Linked DNA regions of Homo sapiens. The protein of the gene in region 1 purifies or fractionates together with the protein of each later gene. This does not show direct contact. Each region holds a gene or a part of one and is shown in the gene's direction. Other genes may lie near its edges.

Evidence for each region. The genes of interacting proteins can lie anywhere in the genome.
Region 2: the proteins of SLC9C2 (region 1) and UFD1 purify together in Homo sapiens (affinity purification with mass spectrometry; one large-scale study listed by BioGRID and IntAct). This does not show direct contact.
Region 3: the proteins of SLC9C2 (region 1) and VPS13C purify together in Homo sapiens (affinity purification with mass spectrometry; one large-scale study listed by BioGRID and IntAct). This does not show direct contact.
Region 4: the proteins of SLC9C2 (region 1) and CLPTM1 purify together in Homo sapiens (affinity purification with mass spectrometry; one large-scale study listed by BioGRID and IntAct). This does not show direct contact.

What each region holds. Positions count from the first base shown.
Region 1 is NC_000001.11:173,523,073-173,526,572, reverse strand, and holds part of SLC9C2 (sodium/hydrogen exchanger 11), read left to right. Parts: intron 1-1,645; coding exon 1,646-1,794; intron 1,795-2,478; coding exon 2,479-2,604; intron 2,605-3,500. UniProt on the Homo sapiens protein: Involved in pH regulation.
Region 2 is NC_000022.11:19,452,303-19,455,193, reverse strand, and holds part of UFD1 (ubiquitin recognition factor in ER-associated degradation protein 1), read left to right. Parts: intron 1-363; coding exon 364-445; intron 446-2,891. UniProt on the Homo sapiens protein: Essential component of the ubiquitin-dependent proteolytic pathway which degrades ubiquitin fusion proteins.
Region 3 is NC_000015.10:61,917,448-61,920,947, reverse strand, and holds part of VPS13C (intermembrane lipid transfer protein VPS13C), read left to right. Parts: intron 1-300; coding exon 301-450; intron 451-616; coding exon 617-881; intron 882-1,498; coding exon 1,499-1,659; intron 1,660-2,163; coding exon of another isoform or gene 2,164-2,226; exon of another isoform or gene 2,227-2,584; intron 2,585-2,690; coding exon 2,691-2,812; intron 2,813-3,312; coding exon 3,313-3,500. UniProt on the Homo sapiens protein: Mediates the transfer of lipids between membranes at organelle contact sites. Necessary for proper mitochondrial function and maintenance of mitochondrial transmembrane potential.
Region 4 is NC_000019.10:44,958,380-44,961,879, forward strand, and holds part of CLPTM1 (putative lipid scramblase CLPTM1), read left to right. Parts: intron 1-3,500. UniProt on the Homo sapiens protein: Involved in GABAergic but not glutamatergic transmission. Binds and traps GABAA receptors in the endoplasmic reticulum (ER).

The sequences.
Region 1 (3,500 bases):
GCTCATTCATTTATGCATTCAACAAGCATTTATTAAACACAGCTAATGGGCCAGGTATGGGAAAGCAAAGATGAGTAGATCCTGACCCTTAAACAGTGCAGAATCTTGTGGAGTGTATGAGCGTATCAATAGATAATTGAAAAAGTTAGCAGAGTCCTGTTAGTTGTTATGGGAGTGTACAGGAAAGAATGAGAGGAGTGTGGAAAGTGTATTAAGGTGGCAAGGTCAGAGTCCTCAAGGTTAGAAGAAAAAGACATGTGAAGGTTACCTTTGACAAAATGGTTTTGTTTCATTGTTTTGTTTTTTGCAAAGATACTCTGGAACATAGGGCTGCAACGAATGTCATTTCCTGAGTATCTACAGTCACTCCACTTTATTTGAAGCACAGAGCAGGAGCCCAGGGATTTTATGCCAAGTTTTTTTGGGTCAGCTTTTCTCATGGGGGGCTGTGGGCCAGGCTGTCAGTGTGTGCAAAAGCATCTGGTAGAGGGCCCAGCATATGGAAGGCCCTTAATAAATGGAAGTTATCAGAAAAGAAAATAAAGTAAAACCATTTCATATTCATGACCACATTGTAAGATGCCATATGGGGTTACACTTTCCAAATCAAAATGGAAAGAATGTGATCTAATGAATGAAAGTGTAAGTTTAGAGACAACAGATTAGAATATTTTGGCATTATCTCAGAAAACCCATGACCCATTGTTGCCATTTATATGTTGACAGATTTTTATTTCTGTGCTTTTAAAGATTAGGGGTTAGGACAGCTGCATTATATTATGTTTTAGATCAGTATGGAATATTACAAAGTTTTCTCAATTCACTACTCTAAAAGGCAGTGCTTGTTTCCATGTGGTTACTGCAACTGATGACTGAATGCTTATCATGGCAGGAACTGCTAACTCTTTATGTACATTATCTCATTTAATCCTTATAATTACTCTGTGAGGCAAATACTATTATTACAGAGGTTAATTTGCCTGAGGCCCTATGGCTAGTAAGTAGTGAGCCAGGTTTCTAGCCCAGGTGTATTTGACACTAAAACCTATGCTTTTGATCATTGCTACCTTTCACTTTAGTGGTCAATTCATTTAGTTAAAAAGAAAAGAGTGTGTACCTTCGATATGGCAAGCATTGTGTTCAATGTTGAATATGAAGATGAAACAGATGCAATTTTAACCTTGACTCACAGTCCAGTTCATGTCTTCTGAGGTTTACTGAAGGGGAAAGAATATGCTCCTTGATCTCAGAAAGACCCACCAGCCAAAGTCCAGGGGTACTTTCATTGTGTCATTTATTCGTCTAACCAACAAAAATTATACAATATGGAGGATGAGACAGAGAAGTAAAAATAGTAACATGATAATGTAATGAGTTCCATAATAGAGATATGGAGGAGATGCCATGGGGATAAGAGAGAGAGAGTGATTTTCTCTTAGCTGATGGGGGAAGCCAGTTTCCAATTTTCTCATCCATAAAATAGAGTTGAAAATAACTCTTTGCCTGCTGACCTCATGAGTTCTGCATGAAACTAGAATCAAAGAATATTGTGTAAATGCTTTGGAAATTATACAGTATTATACTAATATTAGTTATTGTGGTTATTGCATAGGCCACTTACTGAATTTTATTTTCTTTGCTGTAGTACTCATGGAGCATGAGGGTCGTGATGTTGTCATTGCTTTGAAGACTAAACAGGCAATCCGGAATGTGATTGCTAAAGCTCTAAAAAATCTCACCTTCCTTTGTTCAAGAGGCATTATTGATAAGCATGAAGTCATTGAGATAAATAAGGTAATTTTGCTTGATTCTGTCCGCATAACACCCCAGCCTTCATGGTTACTTTAGCAGTGTGTAATAAGGAGGGAGATTGAAAAAATTGTTTAACCACAGGTGTTAACTCTATAATCACCTTCAGCCTTTGATAATGCAAAGGACAACGAATGCCGATGCAATCCGGTACACTCCATTTGTCAAAACTACTTGATTGCAAGTAACAGAAACCAACTTGAACTAAGTTTAGTAAAGAAATGGTTGGGGGATTTATCAAAAGGACGCAGAGTACTTTATAGAACCCACAATAGCCAGGATATGTGACAAGGCCTAAGGAAGGGATTTGAACAGCGATGTAGAAAGCTTTCTAGATTCTCCATTTCCTATCAGGGTTGCCCTCTATGGCATCTTCCTTTGGCTTTCCCTATAGACTCACTAGATTTTTCTGCTTCTCCATCCACTGTGTCAATTGAATTATGAAGATGATAGGTTCAATCTGAGTTAATAAGTCAGTGAAAATAGTAATAAGGGGAGACTAGGGACAAAAATGGTTAGAGGAATTTAGATAGGATGAGACAAGCTGTGAGTCAACAATCAAGGTTAAACTTGCCTAACAGTAGTTTATTTAGATTTCCTTAGTTTTTCCCTAGTGTCCATTTTCTGTTACAGGATCTGATCCCCATTATTTTGATTATTTGTTTTTAGGTACTTCTTAAAAAATTAAAAGCACTAAATAACTTTCCAAAGGCAATCCCACCCCCAACTCCTGACATATACCTTCACAACATCATTTGGCTGGAAGGTAAAGATGTTCTCATTGACTTCTTCAAGGTAAAGATTCCGTTTTCTATTCTGGCTCAGGTTTGATGGTAATTATCCATTTTTTTCCACTCCCTAATGAAAGATTAACAGAAAAGCATATCACATACTGGCCAATTCAGGGAAAGCCAAAATGGAGGCCCAGGAAAGCCTAGAGGAAGACTAGATCTCTTTTTGAGCCTAAAGGGCAAAGATAGTTTTTCACAATGGCTTATCCGCTTATGAGTAGCTATATGTGTCTGACTATTACCAATCCCATTCTATTTTATGTTGTAGAGTTCTGGACTTCTTGATGTACACTCTGGGAGAGACATTTTTTAGAGCAAGGGTCTCAAATTTAAGTTACTGCACAGACCGGGCAGATAGTGTAAAAGTAAAGCCAATTGGGCATAGTGTAATAGGGAACAGTGAGAACTGAGGTGTATTCAAGTTCATGCTCTGTCAGCTGACGGTTGCCACAGGACTTTGAATTCTTTCAACAAATATCTATTGAATATCCTCTACATGCCAGAGACTGTTCTAGGTTTTGGGATATGGCAGTAAACAAAACAGATGAAGTCCCTACTTTCATTTTTTAATTTTTATTTTATTCTTTTTATTTATTTTTTTGAGATAGAGTCTCACTCTGCCGCCCAGGCTGGAGTGCAGTGGTGTGATCTCGGCTCACTGCAACCTCCGCCTCCCGGGTTCAAGTGATCCTCCTGCCTCAGCCTCCCAAGTAGCTGGGATTACAGGCCTGTGCCACCATGCCCAGCTAATTTTTGTATTTTCAGTAGAGACGGGGTTTCATCATGTTGGCCAGGCTGGTCTCGAACTCCTTACTTCAAGTGATCCACCCGCCTTGGCCTCCCAAAGTGCTGGGATTACAGGTGTGAGCCACTGTGCCTGGCAGAAGTCCCTGCTTTCAA
Region 2 (2,891 bases), on another chromosome or scaffold:
AGGGCTGAGGTGTGTCAGTTGTCTGTTGTGTGTGTGAAATCAGAATACTGGAGTGAGAGTCTAGCCACCTCAGGGGGTTCTGTGAAGCTCAGGACAGTGACAGTGAGGGCTTCCCAATCCTTCAGATGACCCCTCTCCATAGACAGGTACAGAGCCTAAAGCCCCTGGCCCTATACCCAATATTGATACCAAACCAAGAAGTCAGTTACTTTCTGCTTCCCTCCTGGGAGGATGCCAGGAAGCACCAAAGGGCCCAGGTGGGGTGCAGCAGCATCTTTTCTGCGTTCCTCTTGACTGTCAAAAATGAATTTTAGTCCTTTTTTCCTGGAAATAACATTTCTCTGTCTCTGTCTCTTCTTACAGAGGAATTCCCAATTATGAATTTAAACTTGGTAAGATAACTTTCATCAGAAATTCACGTCCCCTTGTCAAAAAGGTTGAAGAGGTGAGTGTATTTCCTTGTATTTCCTTGGTTGGTAATGAGGAGATTTATTTGCTAGTGATGACTGAAGTTCTTGGCATTCTGAGTAGGGGTGTGCATTAGTCTGTTTCCAAGCTGCTGGTAAAGATGTACCCGAGACTGGGCAATTTACAAAAGAAAGAGGTTTAATGGACTTACAGTTCACATGGCTGGGGAGGCCTCACAATCATGGCAGGGGGCAAGTCACATCTTACATGGATGGTAGCAGGCAGAGAAAAAGCTGGTGCAGGGAAACACCTACTTATAAAACCATCAGATCTCATGAGACTTATTCACTATCATGATAACAGCACGGAAAAGACCCGCCCTCATGACTCAGTTACCTCCCACCGACTCAGTTACCTCCCACCTGGTCCCTCCCACAACACGTGGTAATTCAAGATGAGATTTGGGTGGGGACGCAGCCAAACCACATGAGGGTGTCTGTCATGTTTTCCCTTTCCTAGGGTCCCTCTGCTCCCTGGTGTCCTGTTTTTTTCTGTAGAGCTGGTGTAGGGTGTATGAAACAGAAGACTTGCAGCATGGGGGTCAGGAGCTCTGTCTTGCTCTAGAGCCGACTCCAGGCTCTGTTATCACAGAACTGTGTGCCCTGGGTGGGCTTCGTCTTCCAACAGAGACCTTGAACTTCAAATATAGGCAGCACCTTCTAGCTGAGCAGGGTGGTGGCGGGACAGAGGAAGGCAAGGGCTGAGCATCCTGTAGACATGGGCACTTTGTGGGAATATGGCCAGGCCTGGCAGCAACTGGAACGCAGTCACCTCTTTGTGATGAGGATTTCTACAACACCAGCGCTTCAGACCCATCGCTCTCCTGGTTCCTTTTCTCAAAGGATTGGACCCTTGAGGATCCAGGATCAGGGCAGAGGGCAGATGTACTGAGCCACCCATTCAGGACCAGCTGCTACATGGGAGCCATCCCAATTACTGAACTCTTTTCTCTAGCACTTGGGGTGGTTGGGGACAGAGACCACTGTGAAGTTTGCACACCTGGTCCTACTCACAACCACTTCTGGGCTCAATGTTCAAGTTGAAACAGCATTGGGCATTGGGACCTTTCAGGCTCAGAGGAGCAAACATAGTGGCCAGTCAGACCTCACCCTCCAGCTCCTCCTTCAGGCACCATCCAGGCTTCACCAGCTACAGGCTGCCTTTCTCACTAAAAGCCAGTGCCTGACTCCGACCTAAGACCTTAGCATGGGACGTCCCCCAGGCTGACTGTGACCTGACTGTTGCAAATTTACAGAAGGCAGGGGAGGCCAGTGGGCACAGCAGGCCTGTTTGACCATAAATATGTATTTAAGAAGTATATGTTTAAAGATGGGATTGAAGACATATTTAGCTCTATTCCATCCTGCAGCCCCACTAAGGCTGTGGCTAAAGGTCATGAGGTAAGAAAGACAGTGGAAGAGGAGGCAACTACAAGGCTTTGGAAGCCCCAGGTACCTTAGTAGACCATAGAAAGCCTAGAAGCAGTTCTGTGTAGATTGTGGAATTCTCAAAAGGCACCTCTAGAAATGAGGGACTAAAGACAGAATTCTGTTACTAAGCAGTTAGAGCTGCATTACCCTCCCTCCCCCATCCCAGAAGGCTGGAGGCTCGACTCCAGTAGGTCTCTAGACTACTATCTCTGAAGTGAAGGCCACAGTCAGAAAGCTTTCCATTCCAGCATCTAAATAATAGAGGATTTGTGGGAAGAACAGCCACAGAAACCAAAGGAGCAGAAATCATCAGGGAAATAGTTTCCCCAAAGATGGGCACAATTTTGCAGATTTGAAGGGCTCACTGAGTTCCAGCAAAATGAATGAAAATAGCCCCACTTTGAGGCAAAGAAAGATCCTAAAGCTTCTAGAGAGAGAACAGAGGTATCACCATGCATTAAGGACATCATCAGCCAAGCGCCATGGCTCACACCTGTAATCCCAACACTTTGGGAGGCTGATGCGGGAAGATCATCTGAGCCCAGGAGTTTGAGACCAGCCTGGGCAATATAGGGAGACCCTGTCTCTACAGAAAATTTTAAAAATTAGCCAAGCATGGTGGCACGCACCTATAGTCCCAGCTACTTTAATGCTGAGTTGGGAGCATCACTTGAGCCTGGGAGGTGGAGGCTGCTGTGAGCTGAGATCACACCACTGCACTCCAGCCTGGGTAACAGTAAGTCCCTGTCTCCCAAAAAAAGGGACATCATCTTAGCAGGACACAGAGGAAACTAGAAGATAGTGGAGCAATATACTCAAAATTCTGAGGGGAAATTTTTTCCAACCTAAAATTCTGTACCAACTCTTATGAGCTGGATTGTGTCCCTCCAGTGTTTCTGTGTTGAAGCCCTAACCCCCAGTAACTCAGATAGGGCCATTTAAAGAAGCAATTAAGTTAAAATAAGACCATTAGAGTTGGCCATAATTCAATCT
Region 3 (3,500 bases), on another chromosome or scaffold:
AGTTGGGTGACACTGAATAAATAGCTATGCTCTGAGGAATGCATAAGAGACAAATATTGTAGCTGGCTTTGAGTAATTTCATGGCGTAATTCTAAACTTTTCCCCATGCTTGGACTATACCCTGAAAGAATGAATGCTGAACTCCATGAAATCAAAGTGAAGCATGGTATATTTTTGAAAATAAGACTTTTGCGAAGCATTACTATAAAGTGATCAGTTTAGGAGAACTGAACTCCAGCATTTTTATTTTATTATCAACTGGCTAATAATTTAAATTTGCTGTGTTATTTTTCTTCATAGGTAAAGAAGAACCCAGTTCAGGATAAAAGTTTGCTGCCAGGAGATGATTTTATTCCTGAGCCACAAATGGCAATTCATATTTCTTCAGGAAATACAATGAATATAACAATATCCAAAAGTTGTCTTAATGTTTTCAACAATTTAGCAAAAGTATGTCTGAATCTTGCTTAGAATATTTCAAGTGGAATTTTAAAATGAAACATATAATTTTTTTGTCATCAAAATTAGTTTCCAAAAAATGTGTAATTATGGTATAGGTTTTGGGAAGAATGTATGTTTTTCAAAAATTTTACTGTGATGATATGTTCCTTTTCAGGGTTTTTCAGAGGGCACTGCTTCTACTTTTGACTACTCTTTAAAGGACAGAGCTCCTTTTACGGTAAAAAATGCTGTAGGTGTTCCCATTAAGGTGAAGCCCAATTGTAATCTCAGAGTAATGGGCTTCCCTGAGAAAAGTGATATTTTTGATGTTGATGCTGGCCAGAATTTGGAACTGGAGTATGCCAGCATGGTACCTTCAAGTCAAGGGAACCTATCTATATTGAGCCGTCAAGAAAGCTCCTTCTTCACTCTGACCATTGGTAGGCTATATTTGTTTTCCTTAAGGGTATCTTAGCAGTTGTTGGTGTGGGCTTATTTTTGATAAAATGTGAAAAAACATTTTGCTGCAGATATCTGGAGATACAACATTTGAAACATATAATTGCTAACCTCTTGTTTCTTGTTTTCTAAACTTGAGAAAATTAAACTTTATTGATTTAAGAAAACTTTACAAAACTAGATTATTTTTGTGCCCTTAAATAATGTATATATTATATAATATATATAAATATTATATATATAATGTGTTTTTAAAAGGATAGGAGTTTACTGAGGAGAGAAAATAGCTATATTCAGAAGTCTTACAGTGTTGACACTGTGACAAAGAAAAAGATTGTTGCTATATGATTGAGAGAATAAGAAATAAGTTGGATTTTGTTTTTATATTCAAAACCCCAAGCAAAACTGTTTTCAGCCAAAAATTTTATAACAGTAACTGGTCTTCTTTTTAAGTTTATGTCTTAGAAAAGCAATTTGTGGTGATCATTTCTAGTGATGAGGAAAAATACTCTTCATTATTTTGAGGTACTAATGATTGTTATAGAGAAACATTGGCAAATTAATATTTGGAATTCTTTTCACTTATGCACTGCCTTAGTACCTCATGGATATACAGAAGTTGCAAATATCCCTGTGGCCAGACCTGGACGGCGATTGTATAATGTACGGAATCCCAATGCCAGTCATTCTGACTCTGTCTTGGTACAAATTGATGCAACTGAAGGGAATAAAGTAATTACCCTTCGCTCTCCTCTACAGGTAATACTTCAAAGTTAATTGTATCCCTTTCAGTGTACCAAGAAATGGTTAAATCATTTAGCTGAATATAGGAATACAGTAAAACTTCATCAGGTCAATTCTGATTATTCAGAAATAAATAGTAATTATTCAGAAATAAATAGTAACAGAAATGGCTTCTATTTACTGTCCAGCTTGCTCTGATAATATTTATTTTAAATGTCTGTAGTTTTGTTTACTTAAAGCTCATTTTTGTTTTCTGTCTTTTAAGACAAATGCAAAATTAATAAAGCTCTTTTGGTATATTCCTTTAAATATTCAGAACCGAGGATTATTGTAATTGTAGTTAGGAAACATTCCATTCTCTTTGTATGTCACTTGGATTATATTTTTCAAGATATGTATGAAGGCATATTGGAATGATCTATCCCTCTGAAAAACATTTTAGCATCTTAATCTGTGTAAATATTTTTTCTACTTTTAAGGTTTTATCCAACATTTTTCTTTTTCTGTGTATTACTACAGGTTTCAGCATATGGTCAACAAAAGAACATTTTTTTTCCTACCTGTAACATCAGATACAAATGAAAAGGTTTCAAATTTTGGACATTGTTATCTTATAGTTTGTTATTTGCTCCAATGCGTAACAGACTGATGTCAAGAAAAGAATTGTACTATTTTTCTCATGATTTTTTGCTATCCATTTCTGTTTAGTTGTTATACATGATACATTGAGAAAAGATTGTCATGGAGAAAAAATGGCTTAAATCTTCAGAGAATAATACATATTTGAAAGATAATATAGACTAATACTAAACATAAGCTTATAATATATGGAGCATTTGAATATCTCAGTTTTCAACTGACACTTAAACATTAAATTTAATATATATAGCACTTAAATACCCTAAAATTTTTCAATTGCCAATAAAAATATCTTCCAATACTGAGTTTGAAATTTTTTAGATCTAAAAGTATTTGTTTGTGGCTCTCATTTTTTCTTTCGAACTTACATATCTTTTAAAAAACTTGTATTTTTTTTTGTCCAACAGATCAAAAACCATTTCTCCATTGCATTTATCATCTATAAATTTGTTAAGAATGTTAAGCTATTGGAGCGCATTGGGATAGCCAGACCTGAAGAGGAGTTCCATGTTCCTTTAGATTCATATAGGTAGATACTTCTTAAATGTATTAAACTTTAAATGTATTGAGTTGGGGATTTATATTCTGGCAAATAACTTCATATTTTTATTAACTAAAGATCAGTAAAAGCCAGTTTTAAGACATAATTTAGTCTTCCATTGAGAAATACATTTATATTATCATTGAATTTATCAGGTGAAAATTCCTGACTGTATATTTGATGTCAGGATTTTTCTGACTATTTTTATTAGATTGCCTTTGTATTTGAAATGAAAATTTTTTTAAGTTGTCTTGTTTACAGAGTTGTTTTTTGTTTGTTTGTTCTTTTCAGAAAGTCCTCCGTAAGTTAGCTATGTGATTTTGGGTGAATTTCCTAACCTTTTTTTTAGCCCTGGTTTCCTCATCTGTATATCTGTAAAAACAGGAATAATAGCACCTATCTTGTAGAGTTGTCAGGAAGATTTAATGAGATGCTTTTTTTTAAGTTGTGGATCAAAACTTTATTGTCACTGTTTCCTCTTTCTGCAGATGTCAATTGTTTATCCAGCCAGCTGGAATCTTAGAGCATCAGTACAAAGAATCTACCACTTATATTTCCTGGAAGGAAGAACTTCATAGGAGCAGGGAAGTCAGATGCATGTTGCAGTGTCCATCAGTAGAAGTCAGCTTCTTACCTCTCATAGTGAATACAGTTGCTCTGCCTGATGAATTGAGCT
Region 4 (3,500 bases), on another chromosome or scaffold:
GTGACTCTTTTTTTTTTTTTCTTTTTTCTGAGACGGAGTCTCGCTTTCTCACCACAATCTCGGCTCACTGCAACCTCCGTCTCCTGGGTTCAGGCAATTCTTCTACCTCAGCCTCTCAAGTAGCTGGGATTACAAGCACCTGCCACCACACCCAGCTAATTTTTGTATTTTTAGTAGAGACAGGGTTTCACCAGGTTGGCCAGGCTGGTCTTGAACTCCTGACCTCAGGTGATCTGCCCACCTCGGCCTCCCAAAGTGCTGGGATTTCAGGCGTGAGCCACCACGTCCAGCCTTGTGGTATAATTTAGATGGTATAACGTTCACCTGTTCTTAGGATAGAGTCCATTGGCTCCTGGTCCATTTATGCAGTTGTGTGGTGCAGCCATCACCACAGTCTGGTCTGAGAAAGCTTCTGTCCCCTCAAAAAGTTCCCTTTTACAGTCTCTGCTGCTCCCAATCCTAGGCAGCCACAGAGGTGCTATCTCTGTAATTTTCTAAAAATGTCTTAAACAAGGATCTAAACAACATCCAGTCTTTTGTGTCCAGCTTCTTTCATTGGGCATAATGGGTTTGAGGTTCATGTTGTTACATAGATCTGCAGTTGTTCATTTTTATTTTATTTTTTACAACCTAGGATCAGGGAAATTTGGCCTTTGGGGAAATCCTAAAGTACGTGCTCACAGTTGTTCCTTTTCACTGCTCAGTGGTAGTCTGCAGACATGACACAGTTTATTCTTTCAGTCCTTGAAGGATATTTGGATTGTTTTTAGTTTTTGTCTGTTGCCAATAATGCTGCTATGAACATTCATGTACAGGCTTTTCTGTGGCTGTATTTTGTTTCTTTTTTTTTTTTTCTAAGTAAGAGAGACAGGGTCTCCCTGTGTTGCTCAGGCTGGTCTCGAACTCCTGGGCTCAATGGATCCTCCTGCCTTGGCCTCCCAAAGTGCTAGGATTATAGGCATGAGCCACCACACCTGGCCACTGTTTGTTTTTGAGACAGAGTCATGCTCTGTCGCCTAGGCTGGAGTGCAGTGGTGTGATCCTGGTTCACTGTAGCCTCATTCTCCAAGGCTCAATTGATCCTCCCGTCTCAGCCTCCTGAGTAGCTGGGACCACAGGCATGCACTACCACACCTGGCTAATTTTTGTATTTTTATAGAGATGAGGTCTTGCTGTGTTGCCCAGGCTGGTCTTGAACTCCTGGGCTCAAGCAGTCTTCCTGCCTTGGCCTCCTGAAGTTCTGGGATTATAGGCGTGAGCCACTGCGCCTGGTCTGGCTTCATGTTTTCTGCCTCCTGGGTAGCCATTCAGGATGGGTTTGCTGGATTGTGTAGTAGGTGCACATATGACTTGTTCAATAACTGCCATATTTTCCGAAGTAGCTGTACTTTTACTTTCCCCCCTAGCAGCATACGAGGGTTCCTGTTTTTCCACATCCCTGCCAGCACTTGTGATTGTCTTTCTGCTGATAGCCATCCTAATAGGTGTGAAGTGACACCTCATTGTGGTTTTAACTTGCCTTTCCGTGGGAAGGTTCCCAGCCAGATTGCCCATCACTAACGGGTAAGCGAAGAGACCTGGGAGTCAGTCAGATGCAGCTTCAAATCCTGACCTGGCATCAAGTGTCCTTTCCTGACCCCAAATCAGCTCAGACCCATTGAAACCCATACTTGGACCCCTAAATTTCCCAATAGCTAGGCTGGCCTTGAGGAGGGGGCCTTGTGCCTGTCTGATTTCCCTTCCCCAGCCGACCCCCGCCCCATAGATCTCCTCATCAGAATGTGGCTTTCTCTGTCTCAGCCTAAGGGTCTCACCCAGACGACCCAGACGTCAAAGGGAGCTCCTCAGGGAGGCCTCTCTGACCACCCACTCCAAAGTGGATCCCTGTTCCCAACTCAGTTGCTGTCACTTCCCCCTGCTTGTTTTCCATGTACCATTTTTAATTATCCTGTTTACCGTTCTAGTGTGTTTCCTTCTAGATCCCCAGCTCTGGGTAAGCAGGGCCCAGATTTCTGTCTAAAATGTTCCAGTATTTTCACAACCTGGTCCACAGGTCAGAGAGGTGAAGTGATGTGCCCAAGGTGTCACAGCCAAGAACGGTGGGACCAGGACTATAGCTGAGGTCTGTTTGACCCTGGAGCCCCTCCAATGGTGTCCTGTGCTTTGGGAGATTACAGGAAAGAGCTCTTGCTGGTGAAGGGGACAGGAGGTGACAAGTGACACATTTAACACATGTAGCCCCTCTAACCATGCTCCTGGGACATTTGCTATCTGGTGGGTAAGGTGAATGGAGAAAACATTGCAGAGGAGTGGACTAGGGGCTGTGGAGGAGAGGGCCAGACACTGGAGCCTCAGAGGGAAGTGGGTTTGGGTGACCTGAGCGTCCGGGGTGAGTCCTTCAGGCAGCGGTGGCCACACAGGTGTTTATCACAGCCTTGCTCTGTGCCACTGGTGCTCTTGAGCTAACTGTGACTGTGATAGCCCTGGTCCTGCCTCTTGAAGGCTGATGGCTGAGGGGACAGCTGGGAGGAGGGGTGAATGAGAACAGGACTGGGGAGCTAGCAGGGTGCGTGAAGGGTGAGCAGAACATCCCCTTCCAAACCTGGCATTCAGAGAGTCTCTGATTGTGACCTTCTGTGTCTGAGTGAAGAGTCCTCCTCTGGGAAGCCGTGCCTGGCTCCCTTGCCTGCCCCCCTTCCCTTCTGTCATTCTGCTTCTGCGGTCCTTCCTGAGTGACCAGACAAGTGGCTTCACCTCTCTGAGCCTCCCTTTGCTCAGCAGCCGGATGGAGCTGGTCATAGTTTTGGCCTCAGGATTAGTGTGCTGTGTGCTGTCACAGACATGTCTTGTGGCCGTGGCTTATGGTAGCAGCTGATAGTCTGGTTGTGTTTTTCTGTGTCTGTCCCACCTGCTGGACCAGGGGCCCTTGGAGGGCAGGGTTGGCCACAGAGGGGGCCTCAGGAATGGTTTGCCCAGGGAAGGCTCTTTCAGCTAAGCCCCAGCCTTGAAGAATCTGGCACCTGCCATAAGACTCCTTCTGTTGTTGTCCCCAATAGCCACCTCCTTGCATCCTGGCTCCAGCCCCAGGGAACAGTGGACAGTCATCAGAATCAGACTGTGCCTCTAATCTTCTGTTTCTGCACCTGCTGCTTCTCTCACTTCCTCCTTTGTGCCACCAACTTGCTATGTTTTAGGTCTCAGCTTCAATGCCCCCTTCTCCAGGAAGTTGCCCCGAACCCTAGACTGGACCAGGTGCCTCTCAGGGCTCCTGCATTCCTGCCCCGTTCTGGACAGTCACTGTCTAGAGATGAATCTTTCTCCCCCACCGGGCTGTTAAACCCCAGGAGGACAGCAAAAGACTCTCTAGGTCACCACTGTCCCTAGGTCACAGAGGTGCTCTGCGAGTGTTTTCCTCCTAAAAGAAGAGGACCGCACCTTCCCAGGTGTTTTCACTGATTCATTCTCCAGTTATTGATAAGCACCCACTCTTTGCCCAGCCT